Linked DNA regions of Homo sapiens: region 1 is linked to region 2. A link means that fine-mapping ties the variant in region 2 to the expression of a gene that starts in the linked region. Tissue or cell type: lung. Region 2 holds a variant in brackets; the other region holds the start of a gene. All regions are shown on one strand. Distances are between the middles of the regions.

Region 1 (2,500 bases), 33 kb after region 2:
GCCCATTGTGGGGGTCAGAGCTGGCATCCGGAGTCTTACGGGGTCCACGGCCCTCTACTTGCCTATCTCTGTTGTCTTCATCTGTAAAGGAGGAGTAGCAGCAGCTCCTTTTTCCTAGGGTTAGGGTGCACAACGCCCACCAGGCACTTAGTGAACTGTTCATTCAAGGTTAGCGGTTGAAACGCAAACATTTTGAACTGATAAAAAACTCTGGTGGGCCGGGCGCCGTGGCTCATGCATGTAATCCCAGCACTTTGGGAGGCCGAGGTGGGCGGATCACCTGACGTTCGAGACCCGCCTGGCCAACATGGTGAAACCCCGTCTCTACTAAAAATACAAAAGTTAGCTGGGCGTGGTGGTGTGCGCCTGTAGTCCCAGCTACTCGGGAGGCTGAGGCAGGAGAATCGCTTGAACCAGGGAGGCGGAAGTTCCAGTGAGTCGGGATCGCGCCACTGCTCTCCAGCTTGGCCATAGAGCGAGATTCCGTCTCAAACAGCAACAACAACAACAAACCTTTGGTGGGAGGTCGGAGTGTGAAATGAAAGACTTAGGGTTCCTGAGTGGGACTACAGCAAGGATTGGGAAGAAAAAAAGGAGATGGAAAAAGACGATTTAGGAGAGGTAAAAGTTCTGTTACTAGGACCCCAGCCCTCACTGGCCCACATCCGCTGGCGAGGACCTAACTTACTGCACCCAGCTTCCCAGTGGCCAGACCTAGGTTCCAGTCCTGGCTGGGGCAAGTCATTACCTTGTCTGGTGCTGTTTCTGCACCTATCAAATGAGGATGGAAATGTCTAGATGAACCGAGATAAACGCATACGAAAGCACTTTGGGAATCTGAAAAGCGCTATGAACAGGTTAGGAGTTTTTGGTCTCTTTTCAAAAAGTTTTTCTTCTAAGCTCATGTTTATCAAGGGCTTTTGAGTTTATCGAGGCTAAGACCCTCCCCTCGGTTTCGCAATTCTGCCCCTTCCTACACACCAAAGTCCGCGCCGCGTCAGGAGTCTTTTTTTTCTCCCCTAGCGAAGGCGGGGACTCGGGCGCTGTTGGCAGCTGGCGACGCGGGGCGAAGCCGCGGCTGGCGGCGCCTGGCCAGTCCCGCATCCGCCGCGGTGGGTGTGCCCGCAGGGGTGCGCCGGGGCCAGGGCCGAGACCGTCGGCCAGAGGGCGCCTGGAGGGTGTGCGCGCCGCGGACGACCAGGGTGCGCCAGCCCCGGGGTGCGCGCCTGGGACGCGGACAGTGCACCCGGAGGTTGCGTGCGCTCCGAAGCCGGGGTGTGCGCCTAGCTGCCCCGGCCCCGTGCACCGCGGGCCGCCTCGCGCAGGACTTCCGCAGCTCGCCAAGGTAAGGGACTCTGCGACCCCAGTCCCCCGCAGTGCGTCTGCTGGGGTGTTCAACACCCGCCCTGCGCGACCCGAGTGTTGGCCCCGGCGCTCGACCACTCTCCTCTTGCCTCTGCCACCCGCCTCGCCCAGTCCCCAGCGCCGCGTCCCCGGCTCCCTTTAAAGCAGTGGCTGCGGCAGCTTGGGCCGACCTGGCGCCCCCGCCTCCCAGCCTGGGGTCTGCGACAGAAAAGGAGCGGGGCTGCTCGGGCTGCCCAAAGGTGGGCGCCGCTCCCTTTCCAGCCCAGATTGGCTCTCCGCGCCCCAATTCTGGGGGTGGAGAACACTGGTGAGGAGGGGGAGGCCGTGCTGTCCTTGCGACTCAGGTGGTGCAGCCCCCGCCCAGCTTTTCCGAGCTAGGCGCTGCGGTCTGGGATGCAGCCTGCGGGACTGGGCGTTCTTTGCCGCGGGCTCCCACTGCTACCTGGAATCGAGCTCTTAGTCTCTCTCCTGTCGCAAAAGTCTCCCCGTAGTGCCAACCCTGGCACTCCTCGGCCCCTGGCTGAACTTTCCAGGGCTCCCTTTGGGCCGCGACCTTGGGCGGAGGCAATGGGGCAGCTCCGAGTGCTCTAGACGCCGCCGAGGGCGCTTTGCCCAGCCCGCATGCCTCCTGTGGGCTCCTTTCCCTTCTGCCTCTCCGGTAAGGTCAAATCTGTGACTGGGTACTTTGACCCCGCAGACTGGCCAGAAATGGGAGTTGGAAAGTCGAGCCCATGGCCGCTACGCTGGGTCTGAACCTAACTCTTGCCCTGGGCATCCTTCGGGGCTGCCAAACTCAAGTCTTAGTTCCTAAGCGCCCTGGAGTGCAAGCCTTTAGGGCAAAGAGGGAGTATTTTCCAGGAGAGGGAGGAGGACCCCCTGAGGCCTGGGCAAAGTCCTATCTACCAAATAGGGCCAGAGGAGGATCAGATGCAGCCAGTGACCCGGCTGAGGCATGGGGAGAAAGCATCTTGAGTTAAACACGATTCCCAAGGACCTGCTTGGGTAAATCAAGCCCAGGTTGCTTAGAGCCTCTCAAAATGTGACACAGGAAAGCTACACTGGGAATGGAGGCAGAGTCCGTTCTAATACTGCCTTTTCAAGCCCAGCCTTCCCACTTCACTGGACCATAATGTGA
Region 2 (2,839 bases):
TGCCCTTGCCACAGTCTTTTGCCTGATTTAGGGAAAGTGTTTTCCCTCCCTACAGCCTCTCTTCCCTCCAATTCATTGTCTCTTCACCTGGCACTGTCATCTTTCTAAAGGACAGTTGTGATCCTTCCACTTTCCTGCTTGAAAACTTTTCAGGGCTCCCCGCTTGCCTGCTGGCCCCTCCAGAGTCACCTCGTGTACTCCTCCTGTCACTCCCATTGCCACCGTCCCCCAAGCCCCTGAAATTCCGGTCAGGTGGTCACCCTGCCATTCTCCAAACAAGCTTCCCTTTCCTGCCTTTCCTCCTTTTAGCCTCTTGACTCCCATCCTTCCCCCTCTCCTCTGCCCACGCCAGCAGACCCAAAGACCAGCACAAATGTCACCTCCATGAGGCCTTTCCCCTCTCCTCCAGCCCTGGCTGCCCACCTCCTAGGCAGAATTGCGACTTTGTGCTCTGTGACCCTGCACACTGTCCCTGAAGCTTACTCATCATAAGGTAGTGTGATGCCTCCAGCTTTGTTGTTTTTGCTCAGGATGACTTTGGCCACTCTCCTTTCTTTTCATCATCCTTCAGATAGTTATTAAGGGTTTCCTGTGTGCCAGACCCTGGGCTGGACACTGGGGATATTGATGATAATAAGGAATTTTTTTTCTGTTTTCAAGAAGCTCACAGTGGCCAGGCATGGTGGCTAATGTCTATAATCCCAACAAGGAGGCCCAGGCAGCAGGATTGCTTGAGCCCAGGAGTTCTAGACCAGCCTGGTCAACATAGTGGGATCTTGTCTTTCAAAACAACAACAACAACAAAACCCACAGAAAACAAAACCAACTTAACTAGGTGTGGTGGCATGTGCCTATGGTCCCAACTACTCAGGAGGCTGAGGTGGGAGGATTGCTTGAGCCTGGGAGATCAAAGCTGCAGTGAGCTGTGATCACACCACTGCACTCTAGCTTGGGTGACACCCTATTTCAAAAAAAAAAAGCTCACAGTGTAGAGGGATGTGGTGGGGGAAGGTACAGAATATTGCAATCTAGACACTAAGGCACAAAGTTCCCCTTTCATAGGGCACTTTTCTTTAACTTACAGGCTAACAGTTCTGCTCCTGGCTTCTCTCCCGTTTGTCCACTACAGTAGGTGCCATGC[A/G]TATTTCCCAGTTGCTCCCGGTTCCTCTGTGGGCCACCCTGTTTACTGAAGTCAGTACTTGAAACTTGGAGTCACGGTCCCTCAATGGAATGAGGCCCCTCCCAACTAGCACCAGGAAGGATTTAGAGAGGCAGGCTTCCTTCTCCGGCTACCTGAGAAGAGGTCCCTAGGCCTCCCCAGACTATCAAAGCAGTCCATGGCACAGAGAGCTTAAGAACCTTGGTCTAGGCTGGGCATGGTGGCTCACATCTGTAATTCCAGCACTTTGGGAGGCCAAGGCAGGTGAATCACTTGAGGTCAGGAATTCGAGACCAGCCTGGCCAACATGGTGAAACCCCGTCTCTACTAAAAATACAAAAATTAGCTGGGCATGGTGGTGTGTGCCTATAATCCCAGCTACTTGGGAGGCTGAGGCAGGAGAATCGCTTGAACCTGGGAGGTGGATGTTGCAGTGGGCTGAGATCACACCACTGCATTCCAGCCTGGGTGACAGAGTGAGACTTCGTCTAAAAAAAAAAACAGAACCTTGGTCTAGCTTCAGGTCAAGGCCACATTCAGGTGACACACCCAGGGTCCTGAAGCTGCTTAGATAGCACAACTGGGACCACAACCACATCTGCCTGTGAATATCACCAGAAGGGACCTCCTCATTCTGAGGGCCTCTCCACAAGGACCACTCTTCTACGCATCCCATCCCTTCGGACACCTGGCAGAACACTTGGCAGGGAAATTCAAATGGGTTCCCTAAAGCGGATCAAGTGCTGCCCAAGTGCAGAGTCGTCTCGGGGGCTAGAGGACAGTGCTCCTTCAGGTGCGGCCCAGAGACCTGTGTGGTCTGAAAACTGTTACTGGTCAAAGAAGCTAAAAGTACAGAAATTGAGAAGAAGGGTTTAGAAATCCTTACAGCAATTTGACTATAATAATAAAATAAAGCTTGCTTTTTATATGTCTGCTTTTTCTTTTAACAAAGACAAAGGCTTATATTTTGCACCTATGTCTTTCATTTTATTTTACAAAATCATCTGTATGCAATGGATTGGAAATTTTTATTTTTTATTTTTATTTTTATTTATTTATTATTTTTTATGAGACGGAGTCTCACTCTGTCGCCCAGGCTGGAGTGCAGAGGCGCGATCTCGGCTCACTGCAAGCTCCGCCTTCCAGGTTCACGCCATTCTCCTGCCTCAGCCTCCCCGGCAGCTGGGACTACAGGTGCACGCCGCCATGCCCGGCTAATTTTTTTTGTATTTTTAGTAGAGACGGGATTTCACCGTGTTAGCCAGGATGGTCTCGATCTCCTGACCTCGTGATCCGCCCGCGCTGGCCTCCCAAAGTGCTGGGATTACAGGCGTGAGCCACCGCACCTGGCGGAAATTTTTGAAATGAAAACTAAACAGCAACAAAAAATACTAGTCTTGGCCGGGCATGGTGGCTCACACCTATAATCCCAGCACTTTGGGAGGTTGAGGTGGATGGATCACTGGAGGTCAGGAGTTTGAGACCAGCCTGGCCAACATGGTGAAACCCCATCTCTACTAAAAATACAAAAATTAGCCAGGTGTGGTGGCCCGCGCCTGTAATCCCAGCTACTCAGGAGGCTGAGGCAAGAGAATCACTTGAGCCTGGGAGGCGAAGGCTGCAGTGAGCCAAGATTGTGCCACTACATTCAAGCCTGGGCAGCAGAGTGAGACTCTGTCT

Which allele goes with the higher level. Alleles are on the strand shown, and positions count from the first base shown. SD is a standard deviation of normalised expression in the study named.
As copies of G replace A in region 2, the expression in lung of the gene that starts at base 1,017 in region 1 goes down (small effect, 0.27 SD a copy in GTEx).

What was found. PIP is the estimated chance that this variant, and not a neighbour inherited with it, causes the effect.
Region 1: it holds the start of KANK4, and the variant in region 2 is fine-mapped to the expression of KANK4 in lung (GTEx, PIP 0.90).

The regions. Positions count from the first base shown.
Region 1 is chr1:62,317,951-62,320,450 of GRCh38, reverse strand. KANK4 (KN motif and ankyrin repeat domains 4) reads left to right here and starts at 1,017. Exons shown (of 10, transcript NM_181712.5): 1 at 1,017-1,345. RefSeq lists enhancers at 977-1,699, 1,700-2,424.
Region 2 is chr1:62,350,849-62,353,687 of GRCh38, reverse strand. No RefSeq gene overlaps it. Among named protein-coding and RNA genes, the nearest start is that of KANK4, 33 kb to the right of the region's middle. RefSeq lists an enhancer at 1,876-2,376. The variant A/G (reference allele first, on the strand shown) is at 1,142.